2 separate regions of the Homo sapiens genome follow, and region 2 is linked to region 1. The links come from fine-mapping of genetic effects on gene expression. Tissue or cell type: whole blood. Region 1 holds a variant in brackets; the other region holds the start of a gene. All regions are shown on one strand. Distances are from middle to middle.

What was found. PIP is the estimated chance that this variant, and not a neighbour inherited with it, causes the effect. A credible set is the group of variants that fine-mapping cannot tell apart.
Region 2: it holds the start of TMEM252, and the variant in region 1 is the best candidate, but not a certain one, in a credible set for the expression of TMEM252 in whole blood (TOPMed, PIP 0.72).

Annotation. Positions count from the first base shown.
Region 1 is chr9:68,496,711-68,504,818 of GRCh38, forward strand. It overlaps PGM5 (phosphoglucomutase 5), which reads left to right. Exons shown (of 11, transcript NM_021965.4): 10 at 2,517-2,651. It overlaps LOC124902174 (a long non-coding RNA gene), which reads right to left and starts at 3,974. Exons shown (of 2, transcript XR_007061565.1): 1 at 3,310-3,974; 2 at 2,171-2,743. The variant T/A (reference allele first, on the strand shown) is at 4,999.
Region 2 is chr9:68,537,324-68,545,431 of GRCh38, forward strand. It overlaps TMEM252 (transmembrane protein 252), which reads right to left and starts at 3,560. Exons shown (of 2, transcript NM_153237.2): 1 at 3,214-3,560; 2 at 1-170. The coding sequence starts at 3,491. TMEM252-DT (TMEM252 divergent transcript) reads left to right here and starts at 3,702. Exons shown (of 5, transcript NR_187592.1): 1 at 3,702-3,907; 2 at 5,055-5,319. It overlaps LINC01506 (long intergenic non-protein coding RNA 1506), which reads right to left. Exons shown (of 4, transcript NR_109769.1): 4 at 6,218-6,280.

The sequences.
Region 1 (8,108 bases):
GGCTTAGTTATGAGCAGATAACACATGTTTATAGTTTGTTATGACCTGAATTCTTAAATTTCCCCTCACTGGCCAAAAATGAATCTGAGAATGTTAATTGTTTAATGGGAGGTACTTCAAAGGGTTGAGTCTGGGGGCTCATCAGAAGAGGTAATCCCAAGTGACTTGGAATCTGCAACAGGTGGGTTAGGACCTCATCCTTAGATATTGCTTTAACCAATTTATGGGTAAGCCATAGTTCTGAGCAGAGTCACGTGCTCACGCGCCCCACGTGTAGTGACAACGGGAATGTAGGCTTAAACATAGGTAACAGCTTCAAAAGAGTTTGTAAAAACAAGGCTGTGAATATCAATATAATTGTGAGACTTTTGGGGATTTATTGTAGGTTTGAACGTAACTTGAAATACAGTGATTTGTAGACAGTCAGTAATTGCTTCACTTGCTCCATTTGGAATTTTGTAACTATTCACTTCTCCAGCAGCATAAGGTGGTTAAGAAGACAGTTTCTGTTCGTTGTAAAAAATTACTCCAGGCTTAAGGAGGACAACTATTGTGTCTTTATATTCATATACCCAGGATTTAGCACAGTGCCTAATCCATAAGGGCCACACTAAAATGTTTGCCCAGTGAATAAATCCTGGATAATATCATCCTGTCTGCAAAGCCAGTATTACAGAGTGATTGGTTGCCAGTAGGGGAGATAGCTCCCTTTGGTTACACAAATTGTGGCAGACATTGAACCACTCCAAAAGAAACTAAAGCTATTTATTTGGGGATTGAAACAAAAAAGCCTACACAACTTGAAAAAAGCATAAAGACACTCAGATGGAACCATAGTGTCTCCCAGCAGATATCACCAGATGGGGGTGGGGGTAAATAATTGCAGTCACATATGCAGCAGGTATATATATTTTTACTAATGGCTTATTCTTAAACAGGACTTGAGGCCAGAGAAATTTCAAGGATAAATTGCTTTGGGAGAATGCCTGATATCAATGTCTCCTGAGACATAGAAGTTTTCCAAAATAACAAATCACCAGATATATTATTTTGTTGCCTCCTCTTCCTTCCCCTGGCCCCTGCCAATATGCTTATTTACAAGAGTTACCTTATCAGTTGTCTTAGGAGAACACATTTCCTTCAACAGAAGTCACAGTATCATCTTATGGTCATAATTTTACAATATCCCTGCCTCTACTGAGAAGAGATACATAGCGAATGGAGATGTGCTGAGCCAATGAGGAATTAATCCTAGGCAGCACTAGTAGATGTGGCCACAGCTCTGGCCCCACCCCACTCTGGTGGTCAGGCCAAAAAAGAAGTCAGGTAAGAAGTGTGAAAGGAAATTCAATCTTGGGACCCCCAAACTCATTAAGCCACAGGGAAAATTCAAGCTGGGAACTGGGTCACGCAAACATGCCTCCCCCTTTTGGTTCCTAAATAAGATGGCTACAAGATGAAAAGCTACATGCCTCCCCCATATTTTGCCCACAAGGGAATTCCCAGTGAGCTGCTAGATCTTTACACTAAAGGTGTTTCTATTAAAATTTCACCATGGCAATATAAATTGATAGTTTATAGATGCAGTCACCCCTGGCCCACCAGACACAAATGCATATCTGATTGTTCCCCTGGCCCAGTTTTGTCTGTTATCTTATATAAAATGCAGATTCCCTGCAATTTTCCTCTGCCTCATTTGTCTGTGTCATCTTATGTTAAAAAAAAATGCAGATTCACTGAGCCAGACAAAGGCATGAATGACTGTTTTTCCCTACCCACCTCTTACATGAAAATTGTGTACTTCTCAATATCCTGCCCTTTCCCCTTTAAATTTGGAGCCTTCAAAATCATCTTTGGAGAAAGGCATAGACCTGTCTCCTAGGTGTGCATCCTTAACTTTGGCAAATAAACCTCCTAAAATAATTGAGACTTGTCATTTTTCTCGATTGACAGAAGAAAAGACAGAGCCAAGAGGATGGCAGTGTACTTGGCTACCCCCAGAGCCTAGCTGAGGCTCCAGCCCTGGGCACTTCACTGGAGCATTCCCTTGCCAGCAGAGGAACCTGCAGCCTAACCTCATGCTGGGGTAACCTTAATGTGGGCAATCCGTCTTACTGTAATAGACAAATTGCCTGCTTTCACTTAATCCACAGATTTACAAGGGACAAACTTTGGCCCTAGGAATATTTATTGAATATCATTTCATCCCTGTGACTTCCACTTCTTTCTGATTCCCATATCACCAGCCCAAGAGAACTTGAGTATCTGTTCACAGCTTTGCTCCTCTTTCCCCACATTAACCACAAAGCAACGGAAATAGAATAAAGAGACAAATGGGTAACTCTAAGTAGGTTCATCACATTCATTACATGCCCTGTATCCAGAGCCAATATAAATGGTCTTGATTCTGATTGTGTTGAGGTATAAAAACATGCTGATTTCTGTGGCAGGTATTAATGATTATTACTTGTGTATTCATTTGCTCACTGCTCCATTCTGGATGTTCTTGGTCTCAGGGCCTAAGGATCATTTTCTCGGATGCATCACGGCTCATCTTCCGGCTCAGTTCCTCCAGTGGTGTGCGGGCCACCCTCAGACTGTACGCAGAGAGCTACGAGAGGGATCCCAGCGGCCATGACCAGGAGCCACAGGTACAGAAACAGCTGTGCTCCCAGCAGTGTGTCTCGCAGCTCCTGGCAAATTTAGAGAGCTCCATGGGCCTTTAGTGGGGCTATTTTACCTCCTGGAAAGGTACATGATAATTTCAGCTGGAGGACAAGCTCAGGGCAACTCCAAGCAAGTTTAATTCGTTCATTACAGTGTTTGAAACAGAAAAATTGCTCTCTCGCATCTATTTGTAATCCGTTTAGACCAGCATTTCCCAAACAACTGTCCTCTCTTGACTGTTGAGTGGTTTGTTAATTGGGGTAAAGAAAAAGCACCTTTTATAGACAAGGAAATTTAGCGTTAGAGTCAAACTGGTGAAACTCTCAGAGCCTTGACTACGCTTATGTAACTTTTGAATCTCCAGACATTTGGACCATGACCTTGAGGTGCCAATACAGATGGGCTTTGTCTCTGAGATTGCTACATTGTCCACTCTGAGAGGAGAGGATATAGGTGGCCTTTTAAGTTAAGGAAGCACATTGACAAGGCTAAGCCAGACTGTTTGGCAAAGTCTCCTCATGTTTTCAACAATAAGGCTAATTAAGAACTCAGAAAAATCATAAATAACACAACCATAAGCCTCTCCACTCCCACATTCATTAAAGCTCCAGCCAACATTAATTAATACCAGAAATGACTCACTTTAATGTTGGGTACTTCAAGCTATACAGCTGGCTGCTCCTGTCTTCTTGGTGTCTTCAATCTGGGTTTTGAAGCAAGGTCCTTGATAAGATGATTTTTTCAGATGAAAACATTGGTTCTACCTGCCATACTTCCTTTGTGGAAAAGTAGAGAAACAGAGAAATACTCACTGCTACTCATTTTAGAGGTGCTCAGAATTTCTAGCTATAATTTGCCCTGATGGAGTAAGATACCTGGCAGGCTTTTCTTTCTTTGTCAGTAGTTTAGGGGTTTTTTTGTTTTGTTTTGTTTTGTTTTGTTTTTTTCATGGTCTGTTTCTTTGGAGAGTCTCAAAGAACTTGGCAATAATGGGTGCTACAGATCCTTACACCTGACCCTACAGCCAGAAGATCTGTCTGGAGTAAAATCATCCTAGATGGGACAGGAGAGGCTGGAGGAGGCTGAGAGCTATTCTCAGGGTTACCAAGAGCATGAGTGGGCAAAGCAGGTGGCCAGCATGAAGCCCTTGGCTCTTCCTCTCAGGATCATAGCCTTTCCATGCAGGGGATGGGACACACTCTGCCAAAATAATTGGTTAGTGCGTACATTTCTCCCAAGATAGTACCAAATCATGCAAGAATTTGGGGCTTACCCTGTCTTTCCAAATAAAACACTATTCTACATCTCATGTTGGGGAGGGAGATTAAAGCAGGGGCCTAAAAGTCCAGAGCTACGTACGTGAGGAATGATATTCCTGGCCTCACCAACTCTGACTCACTCTGACTCCGGGCTATTTTTTCCTCAACATTCTTTTCCCTATTTGCACAGGGCAAGTGGCTGTGATATTTGCTTATTTTTATTTACCCTCCGCACTGGACTGAGACCAGGCCATTAGACAAGTGTCACAACAATCCTATACACACAAGAGTCTCTCCCTGAGGCAGTCCACAAAAGCAGTGCTTTTTTTTTTTCTTTTCCCAAGGCTTCCTTTGAAGCTGAAAGTCTCCATCAGCCTACTCTTAGAAGGTCATGTGAGTAAAGGAAACATAAGTCATGCTGGTTTTGGTCCCCATGACTGCACATTTCTCATCCTGTTGGTGGAAAGAATTTGCCACTTTGAAGGGTTGGCGAATCCCTTCACTGACGTTGCTGTTGGAATTTCTGATTTCCCCTCCCTTCTCCTCAGAAGCAAGAGTTTTCCTAGACCTGGCTCGATGGGCCCCCGAGTATGTAGCACATGATCTAGCTAAAAGTTTTACATTAAAATAGAACTCCTTGTTAAAATACCATACATCATTGACTCACCAACTTAAGCCCTATTGCATAATACATTTGAGTCAGGATATAACATAGAGTAAGATTTTAAAAGAAATCTAACCACCTAGGGGAAAGCAAGAAGATTCTCTCAGCAGGCCAACCTGTCTTAATTACTGCTGAACTCTACCTAAGCCTTTAAGTGGGAGCATTTTGAGGGCTCCTTACAGGGTTGCTTTCCAGGACCACCTGCTTCTGCCTTCTAAAAAGCCTTTGATTAACTGTTGAACAGAGATAAAAGTAAGATGTACTCCTGAAGCTGCTAGTGTTATTCCTGATCAGGGCCTGACTGGAAAGACCTGCTTGTGTTGCTTTCTCAGCTACCAAAAGAACCCCTTCCACCTTCTCTAATCTGCAGAGATTCCATTGCTGATCTTGTTCCAATTCAACAGGTAG[T/A]TTTTGATGTTTTACCCACTCTAACCCAATAGCCATCTACACTTAAATTATTTTGCAAGAGAACAGAGAGTTCCCTTCAACTGGCTTATTAATATCTGGCTATTTTACTTTGGCCATGGATAGTTTCTTTTCCAGACATTTTGAACACATGTGAACAGAGCATGTTTTAAGCATTTACACTGATTGCCTTGCAGACATACTCATAACAATCCTAGTGATGCAATTAGGAAAACTTGTGATATAATCTATATGCATTTAGACCATACTCACATGTAGATTTTCCATTTGCATCCTTTTGTAGAACAGTGATTATGCTATTTAAGTTAATATCAATTTCTTATCTACATCAAAAATATTTTTTAAAAATTATATCCATATGTGCCTACGAATTGGTGGTAAGGAGAGGATGGGCCGGGGAGGGCCCTGATGAGATGGGCAGGTTCTTGCCCTGATCCCACTCTGTGTCCTTGGTAAATCAGGAAGGAAAGCTTCCAAAGGCTTGTTGCTGGAAGACTACCTAGTTTTTTAAAATACAAGTTTATTTTAATTTTACCAGCAATCAGTAGGCCTTCAATGAGCCCTCAAACCAGCTGGTAATCATTTGGAAAAAGGAATGAGCCAAAAGGGTTTAAAATCACAGGTAACCAGAAACAGTACAATTGTTTCCGTTTTCTTTCCCATCCAATTTATTAGCAGGGCTGCTATTATTAGCTTCTCGTTGACCTTCTTCCCTTGTCCCTTTCAGCCTGTGGGTGGAGTAGTTAAGGAACAATAGAAGATCCAAAAGGAAAAGGAAGGAGAAGTTTTGTTAAGGGCTAGGAAAATCACAGACTGATAATCAGCCCGTGGCTAATCAACCCTTGGCTTTAGTACTTTCAAGGCAGAATACAGTCACACCCGATCTCACCCCAGTCCTTGGGAGGGGCCTGATTTTCCCCCAGTCTTCCTGAAAATTGAGGAATTTAAGTATTTGTTTGTTTGTTTGTTTGTTTGTTTTTTGAGAGGAAGTCTCACTCTGTGGCCCAGGTTGAAGTGCAGTGGCATGATCTCAGCTCACTGTAACCTCCACCTCTTGGATTCAAGGGATTCTCCTGCCTCAGCCCCCCGAGTAGCGGGGATTACAGGTGACCGCCACCATCCCTGGCTGATTTTGTATTTTTAGTAAGGACAGGGTTTTACCATGTTGGCCAGGCTGGTCTCAAACTCCTGACCTCAAGTGATCCACCCGCCTCGGCCTCCCAAAGTGCTGAGATTACAGGTGTGAACCACCACATCCGGCTTTAAGTATGTATTTTTGATAAACTGTACCTAGAAGGCTTTAACAACTAATACCTAAGAACCAGGTCCCTCATATTTATTCACCTGTCAAACCAAAGGTCATCTGTCATTTTGTTCTACCTGTTCTTAATAAGACTTTGTAATCCAGAAATAAAGTATAGAGCCATTTTGTTTTACATAGGAAGAACATATGATTTGTCATCTAAACCAGAATACAGATGCTCCTAGATTTACAACAGGGTTACACCCCAATAAACCCATCATAAGTTGAAAATGCATTGAATACACCTAGACTGCAGAACATCACAGCTTAGCTTAGCCTACCTTGAACAAACTCAGAACACTTACATTAACCTATGGTTGGGGAAGATCATCTAACACAACCCCATTTTATAATAAAGTGTTGAATATCTCATGAAATGAATACTGTACTGAAAGTGAAAAAATCGGTGTATGGGGACTCACAGTATGGTTTCTACTGAATGTGTATCTCTTTCACACCATCATAAGGTTGAAAAATCATTAAGTCGATCCAGCCAAAGTTGGGGATCTGTACTTTTGTGAGCGAAAGATAATAATTGTAATTATGTTTAGATTGTCCCCAATAAACCAGGAGACATGATTACTCTAGCTACCAGCCTGCATCCTCTCTTAGAACCGCATCTCTTTGGAGATGGCTTTCTAAGAAAACTAGCAATGAAACCTGGAAGGAAAGAGGGAACATACAGAAATGAGAAGAGTCAGCTCAGAGGTTCTCAACCCAGGCAGGCTGCACATCAGAACCACTCAGGCAGCTTGGTGAAAGTACCCATGCTTTGGCCCCAGTCCTAGAGATTCTACTTTAATTGTTTTGAGGTGGGACCTGTAGTTTTTAAAAAATTTCCCAGATGATATTAATTAGACAAGTGCATCTCAAACTAATTACCGGCCAATCACCTTGGGAATGTGTTAAAATGTGGATTCTGACTCAGGTATGAGGAGGGCCAGAGATTTTGCATTTCTAACAAGCTCCCAGGCAATACTGTGCTGCTGGTCCAGGAGCCACCCATTGAATAGCAAAGAGCTAGGTGAACTGTGAAGTGCTAGCAGCAGGACCTTGAATTCTTTAAAACTGTAGAATGAGCAGCACCTGTTTTTAATACCATTCCACACATCGATCTCTGTCTTCTAGACTTCTATTTCTGTTGCTTATTGGATTCCACCTGAATGTCTTATAGACATCACCAACTTGACATGTGCAACACTGATTTCCCGCCAGCCTCCTGTGCACTCCTCCAAAACAAACTCCAGCATGCTGTTTCTTTCATTCTTCTCCATCTCAGTAAATGGCAGTTCCTAAAACATGTTAGACCACCTCATAGCTCTGATAGAATCCTCCCCTCCACCTCATTTAGAGAAGAGCCCAAACCCTTACCATGATCTTGAATGACATACTGGAAATGGCCCCCTTCTCCCTCTGACCTCATTTCCTATCTCTTTTCCTGCTTCTTTCTCCACTCCAACCGCTGTTTGGTGAACATGACGAGAATGCTCTGCCTCGTGTTAGTTACGATGGCTGTTCCCTCTGCCTGAAATGCTTTTCCTTCTGACATCTGCATAGCTTGTCTCCTTACTTCTCAGTAAGGGTGTCCCTGGCCACCTAATATAAAATAGCCCTCACATGCAGGTACTTCTTACTTCCCTACCCTGCTTTGCTTTCTCCATGGCATTTATCCTCATCATATATATATATATTTATTTTATTTTATTATCTGTCTCCACCCAGTAGAATGGAAGCACCAGGAGGCTGGGACTTTGTCAGATTATTTCCCTGTATCCCCAGTGCACCTGGT
Region 2 (8,108 bases), 41 kb after region 1:
ACTCTCTATAAGATGGTGGGGCCTCTGGGTGGGAGTCATTTCCATCCTGGAATTCCAGGCCCGTCTCTGTATATAGAGGTGGAGGAATGCCAGAGGCCTCTCTCTCTGCAGGACAGCTCTGCTTTTCCACCTCAAGGCTCTCTTCATAAGCTGGAGGGTAAAAGTCTGGCCTAGGGGACAAAACAGCATAAACATGCGTGCGTTATTTAGGCATTAATGCCAAAGAGGCAGACGGCTGCCTCTCTCAGCTCAAATTGTGCGAAGCTAAACTGTTAAGAAACATGGATTTTTGAAACAGATGTACTTCTTCCTGGCATCACCAGTTTTTTAAAAATGTGCTGCTCTTCCAAAAGAACCTTTTTATCAGCCACAGGATGCCTGCCTCTAGTCACATTTTTTTCCCAGTGGGTTATGCCAAGCTATTCCTTCTCTATTGCTCATTCACTCATGAAAACAGGGCCATTCAGTGTGAGATCCTTGTCAACATTAGAGGAGGTGGGGGCTTTGGATAGGGAACTTCTCTCTACCGAGTACTTAGTCCATCCACATCCTTGCTCCCTTTCTCGCATGGCATCATCCCCTCAATTGCACTCACTTTCTCTGATCATCACAGCCAACAAAATAATGAATGAAAACCAACTCTGTGCTGATCCCTGAACTATACCAGATGCCATGTCTCTATCCTAACACCCTTTCGAGACTCAGTAGCTAGTTTCAAAGAAAATATACAAACATATTCATTTCTCAAATGATATCAACTGACAACTTTACACAGATTTCAGTTGTAGCCCTTTCTATGCCAGTAGGCTAAAGCAGCCATTCATTCGGGGGCTGATGTACTCATTGGTCATCTTGCCTGGCATTTCTAATTGCTAAATCCTCCTGGCTTCTCCATCATGAATGAATTTGGGGGAAGGGGAGAGGGGAGGAAGAGAGACCGGTGAGCTTGGCTGAGTTGTGTATTTATAGAGTGATCCTTCCAGTGCCTACAGGGAGTGTTTATGGTGTGTAACCACAACAGAACAGGGACTGCCATTTGTAGCCACAACTCCATTCCAAATGTTACCAGGCCCAAAGCCAGTAGCTGAAGAAGCTGTCTACTATAAGGCATAAATCTCAGCCTTCGCTCAGAATAGCCAAGGCTGAGTCACGGGGCACATGTGTAAAGGCATTTTACACAGAAAGGTGAGATGTTCCCTGGAGTGATGTGAAAGGTTCCAGGATGACTGCTGCCTGCCCCAAATCCCAGCTACCTCTCCCAACCCCACCCTCCTTCAACTGCCATCCATATTCCCAGTCCCCTGAATTCCATCATCGGAGACCCATTTGCTTTGATATCTCAACCTGGGTATCCATTTTGAGTGCAAATGCTTTGGAGAAATGTGACTTCCCAGGCTGACTTGCCAGCCATTCTGCGTGGGATAAGCATCTTATTACATGCAGCGAGAAGAGGCAGTAAAATGGGGGTGTTACGATGTCCATAATTTACTTTCAAACATTTCAGTATACTGTAATATTATGCAGTGTTAGTCAATTTAAGCTATATCCTAAAGGCAATCAGTTACATTTATCAGAAATTCACACTCTAGAGGTAGTCCTCTAACATTTATACAAAAAGAAATCATCACTCTAGAGGCATCTTCTACAATCACTTCATTTCTCTTAATTTTTAATCAAACCCAGAAACTCTGCTGGTTAGTATAACATTGGAAATAAGTTTTGGTTTTCATAATTATTATCTTATTAATTAGCATAAAGGATGCCAAAAGTGGATGCTCATGGGTAAGATTACTTATATTCAAGATACATGGAGTAGCTAAAATATTTTAGATACTTTCTACTCTTGCACGAAGAGGGCAAAATAATTATAGTCTTGTAGCCTGTATCTTGAGAATGATGCCTAGGGTGTTATCCCTAAATGGTCCTGTGGCTAGCCAAGAATTAGGAGGTTTCTTGTTGCCTGATACTGACTATAAGATTAACTGAATCTTTTTTTTCTTGTGGTAAAATATATATGACATAAAATTTACTGTTTTTAAGTGTATAGCTCAGTGGCACTAAATACACTCATATTGCTCTACAACCATCACCTTAAAACTCTCTACTCATTAAACAATAGGTCCCCAGTCTCTCCTTCCACCAGCCCCTGGGACCACTGTTCTACTTTCTGTGTCTGTGAATTTGACTACGCTAAGTACTCATGTAAGTGGAATTATACAATATTTGCCCTTTGTAACTGACTTGTTTCACTTAGCATAATGTTTTCAACTTCATCCAAGTGGTGGCATGTGCCAGGATTTCCTTCCTTTTTAAGGCTAATATTCCATTGCATGTATATACCACATTTTGTTTATCTACTCACCTGTTGATGGACATTTGGGCTATTATGAATAAATGTTGCTACAAGCATTGGTGTACAAACATCCATTTGAATCCCTGCTTTCAGTTCCTTTGTGTATAAACTCAGAATGTAGAATTGCCAGATCAAACAGTAATTCAATATTTAATGTATAGAGGAGTCTCCACACTGTTTTCCACAGTGGTTGCACCATTTTAACATTCCCACCAGCAATGCACAGCGTTCCAATTTATTGACATCCTCACCAACACTAGCTGTTTGGTTTTGTTTTTTGATGATAACTATCCTAATGTATGAGATGGCGAGAAAGAATGAATCTTGCCTCTAGAATATTATCACCTTCCCCTGAAGGAATGTTTTATGCAAGGTGAGATCACAACACCTAAAAGGACAGTAAACTGGGACTTTTCTGAGCTCACAGAGATTCCAGGACTCATTTTATGCCTGCTTCTTCATTTGTTGTGTGGCAGAATTTGGTCTGGGACTTGCTTTCCTTAGAACCTCATAGCCAGGTTATGGGAAGTAACTAACCATCACCTGCCACTAATTAATGACAGCTGCCATGATATAACAAAAGAGCCTGGGTTTCTAAATTGGCTTAGGTGGGTTTTCACTGGGGGTGGTGGTAGGGTTTCTCTGAGATGAGTTGCCCCTGCGTCATGGTTTTCCCCAAAGATGGCGCCACTCTTCCTAATAACAACCCCAGAGTAATTCCCTGACAATAAAGCTTTGGTTCTAGACAGACAGCCCATGGGACATGTAAGTCGCTCCATAGTAGGATCAGAAATTACTCAGATCTTACACAACTCAGCCCATCTCAGCCCTTCTTGGTCCCTCTGCCTGTCAGCACGTACCTGTCTACTGTGGCCACGGGCAGGGCCCCATGAGCAAGGTGTTGTCGGAGCATGTGCCTCAACACTCCTTTGCTTTCAGTCACCTGGCGATAGTTGCTCCAGAAAATTCCACTCAGAAGGATCACAAACCCCAGAGGCAGAAGCAAATAGGCCGCAATCAGGCTCCCCTGACAGTCGAATATGGAGCCCCAGGAAATGAAGAAGGCCCCCAGGCAGACCATCAGGAAACCCATCAGGAGGGCAAGAGCACAGAGAATGAGGCCAGTTCTGTTCTGCATCCTTGCACCTTAGGAACCCAGCACCCTGACCCTGCTGCTCCTCTGCTTCCCTGCTTGCTCCAAGAGAATGAGCTCATTAGCCAGCTTGCAGCTTTATATGCTCTGGGACCCACTGGCCTTTGGACAACTAAATGAAACAGGCACTTAGAAGCTATTCATTAACCATTGAAAGTAAGTGTAATATCCTTGGAGAATTAGCCAAAAAACATAGCATTGTATACTGCAGGCAGGAGTGGCTTCGTGTAGCTGTTTTGTTCTTCAGAGTTGGGTGGGACACTCAGCTGTTCCCAGTTATTTGAACGTACAGCCCTCCTTTGATTAAAAGGCGCTGGTCTCTTAATCCCCATGGAGGGCAATTCCCCACTAAAAGCTGGAGAAGTTAGCACTCTTTAAAGAACGATCTTCTTTGAGGTTTGGTAAGAAATCCCTTCCTGATTCCTTCTCCCTTTTTCTGTACTAAAAAGGCATTTCTTCAAGGCTGTTAACATGTTTGTCTTGCCTCCCTCAATGAATCCCCACTTATTGCCCCCACACTATGATACTGGCATAATTCCAAGACAGAAGTTCAGAGTGTGAACTTCGTGGTTCCTGCTCTGTTGACAAGATCGAAAGAGCCTGAGTGGGAGGGAAAGGAGAGTGCTGGAGAAAAGGACTATAATAGACAGAGCCTCGGGAATTTGGGGGGATTTTGGGCCTGTAATTCCTGCAATCTTTCCCCCTTTCATAAAGTACATATGAAATAGAATTCGTTTTAGAGGATGCTGCTAAAAATGTTCCCTGTCCTCTCCTCCACACCTCTGCTCTATGTAGCATTGCCTCAAAAAATCTTTCCAGAACCAGCCTTCTGTTTCCTGGCTGGAATTTGTTTTCTTTAGCTTGACTGTCTTTGATTGTGGATAGCTTATTTCAGACGTGCTTTATGCCCTGGCTCTGCCCTTTTTTATTTGATAATGTGGCATGTCTCTGCCAAAAGTCTCCTTCCCATAGGAACCCTGGGTTGCTTTTACTCAGGATAGCTTATCTTCAGTTCCTCTTTGCTGCTGTTCCACTCCACTACTCCATTACCATTATTTTCCATTTACTTTCCCAATGAGAGCAGCAGTTTTTTGTGGCGTGCCCTAATAATCCCTCATATAACCTTTAGTCTCACACTCACCATCTCCTTAGCTCTACCTTCATGTTAGGGCTGGGAGACACGGATATTAGAGAGGTACACACTATGGATCAAAAACTATATAAGGCACTTCTCCATTCCAACCCTTAGCCTTTACCTTTCTTAGCTTCAATTTCGACCTTGAACTACCTTGATCTTCTAGTCTTGATATTGTCTTTGTAATCTTAAAACAGCTCTTATTCCCTCCTTCCCCAAACTGTGAGATGGAATATTTCTAAGATGATCCCTAAGGATCCCACCTCCTGATATTCATGTCCTTGTGTAAGTAATCCTCTCCCCTGAGTGTAGGCTGGACCTAGTGACTTCATTCTAATCAATAGAATATGGTAACGGTGATCGGAAGTTACTTCCGTGGAGGCTACACAAGATTGTGGTTTTCATCTTTCTAGCAGACTCTCTCTATTGTCCTCTTGGCTTACGCCCTTTGAAGAAGGAAGCTGCCATATTGGAGAGGCCCATGAGGCAAGGAATTGAGGGCAGGTTCTGGCCAACAGTCACTGAAGAACTGAGGCCCTTAGTCCGTCAGCCCATGAGGAACTGCATCCTGTCAATGACCACGTGAGCTTGCAATCAAATCCTCATCCCACTGAGCCTTGAGATGACTCTGCTCCCAAGCATCACCTTGACTCAGTGACCCTGAAGTAGAGGACCCAGGTAAGTCATACTCGGATTCCTGACCCACAGAAACTGTGAGATAAAACGTTTCAGCCAGGGTCCTGGATGCCACAAGATGGCAAGAGCCATAATCAATGAATGCATTATGATCAAATCATTTCATGTTTATGGATGTCACTATTTTAACAAATAAAAGAGGTCAAAAGTTTAAAAAAAGTATATTTTAAAAATATGCTAAGTTTTGTGGCCATTTTTTAGATAGCAGTAGATAACTAAAAAAATTCTCTTAGAACTTTGAAAATCAGAAGAGACAATCAATGTTAAGTATTTATCATAGTACCTGGCACAGAGAGTGCCCTGTGAAGGTTATCTATAATCACCATCACCAATATTGTTATTATCATTGCTGTTACAATTCCAAAAATCTGTGGAAGACCCAGGACCCCCAGCTGAAAGGTCTGCACTAGGAGTTGGGTCCCAGGAACAGGTAGATGGTAAAGCCCCAGGATAATGTTAAGAATCAGGTGATGGAGGAAGAGTACTCTCAATCGGAACTGCCCATCAGACAGTTGGGCTTCTCTGTTTTAGACAAAAATGGAGGCAGAAATTAGACTGGGGATTATGACAGGTCAGGCCTCATTCTTGTGATCACATCAACACATGAGTAAATAAGTTTCTCTATACTTTTTCCTCCTCCATGCCAATAAAGTACACTAGAACCATTGCCTTATAGTTTGTCAGACAGTTCCTTCCCCTCCAGTGCCCTTTGAGGAGGCTCCTGTCATTCCACAGCAGTGTTGTTGTTGTGATGGTGGTGGTGGTATGTTTTTGGTGAGAAATTAGGTATGGAAGAGCAAAATCCAGGAAGTGGCAGGGGGATGGAAGGACTCAGTCCCTTTACATAAAATTTATGTGAAATTAAGAATAGTTCCTGGGCTCAGGGTATTTGAGGAATTTATTTTGGGCATCAAGGGGAAAAGGCTGGGAATATTTGCAGCATCTGTGGGAAGGAGACGAGAAAAGGAAAAAAAATCAATATGGAAATATGAAGTATCACAGGGAACCATATTTCTCCTTCAAAATGACTAAGAAATACTAATGAACACCACACAGTCTATCTGTGTAATAAAACTGTACCTGAAATACCTCCTAAATCTGTACAAATAAAAACAAACAAATTTAAAAGGCAAAAGAGAGAGAAATACTGGTGAAGTTGAGGTTATTTTGTATGTTTATGTTTATTATTAAATATACATTACTAAATAATTATAATTTTTTAAACTGTGACTCTGCTTCAGTTCCTCTTTTTGCCCATCATAAAATTTTATTATGAATAATTAAAACTTTACTCGCTGGTAAGAAATTACCAATGCTTAAAATGGTAATTTTAATTATAAGAAAAATTAGGTTGAAAAGATAGGGTGTTCCCTCGCATTGTCAAATAACATACAATGCCGCAGATAAAAACAGAGATCAGCATCGTTTTTAGGAACTATGCTTCACCCTCAAATTTATTTGTATACCTGGAAATTCAGTTGCCATCATCAAGCTTAGGTTAATTGATTATAAACTGGTTAACACAATTGAGCATCATAGCATCTTGAGACAGTTCTAGTCTGCAAATATAAGCCACCAGTGTACTTTACAGTAATAACACAAAATCAGCATAATACTGTAAGCAAAAGATGCTAAGTTATCATGTGTTATTATGAAGTTATGAAGGTTGTCATTGTTGTGCATACTTTCTTTTTTTCTGAAAATATTTGATCTTTACTTTTTATGTGCTTTGTAATATGTGCTATGAGTGTAGTCATATATATATGGAGATTATATATTAAGCTATATCTATATCAGGGGTATGTGCCCACTCTTTAAACTTTTAAGTTCAGAGGTACATGTGCAGGTTCGTTATATAGGTAAACTTGTGTCGTGGGGGTTTGTTGTACAGATTATTTCATCACCCAGGTATTTAGCCTAGTACCCATTGATTATTTTTCCTGATCCTCTCCCTCCTCCCACCCTCTACCCTCCAATAGGACCCAGTGTCTGTTGGTCCCTTCTTTGTGTCCATGTGTTTTGATCATTTAGCTCCCACTATAAATGGGAACATGCAGTAAATATGTTTTCTGTTCCTGTGTTAGTTTGATGATAATGGCCTCCAGCTCCACCCATATCCGTGCAAAGGACATGATCTTGTTCTTTCTTATGGCTCCATAGTATTCCATGGTGTATATGTACCACATTTTCTTTATCCAGCCTATTATTGATGGGCATTTAGGTTGATTCCATGTCTTTGCTATTGTGAATAGTACTGCAAAGAACATATGTGTGCATGTGTCTTTATGATAGAATGATTTATAGTCCCTTGGGTATATATCCAGTAATGGGATTGCTGGACTGAATGGCGTTTCTGTCTTCAGGTCTTTGAGGAATCACCATATTGTCTTCCGCAATGGCTGAACTAATTTACACTCCCACCAACAGTGTATAAGCATTCCTTTTTCTCCACAACCTTGCCAGTATCTGTTATTTTTGACTTTTAACAATAGCCATTCTGACTGGTGTTAGATCGTATCTCATTGTGGTTTTGATTTGCATTTCTCTAATCATCAGTGATGTTGAGCTTTTTTCATATGATTGTTGGTTGCATGAATGTCTTCTTTCTGCTTCAGTTCTAAACCACATGGATCACTGCTATATAAGCATTATTCCCCTTCTGTGCCTCAAAAATGACCAAGAATCACTAAAACCAATTACTTGTAATTTTAAACAATTTTTATTACTTGCAGTTTCCCTCCTATTTATGTTGCAGTATGCCCTCTTTCCCC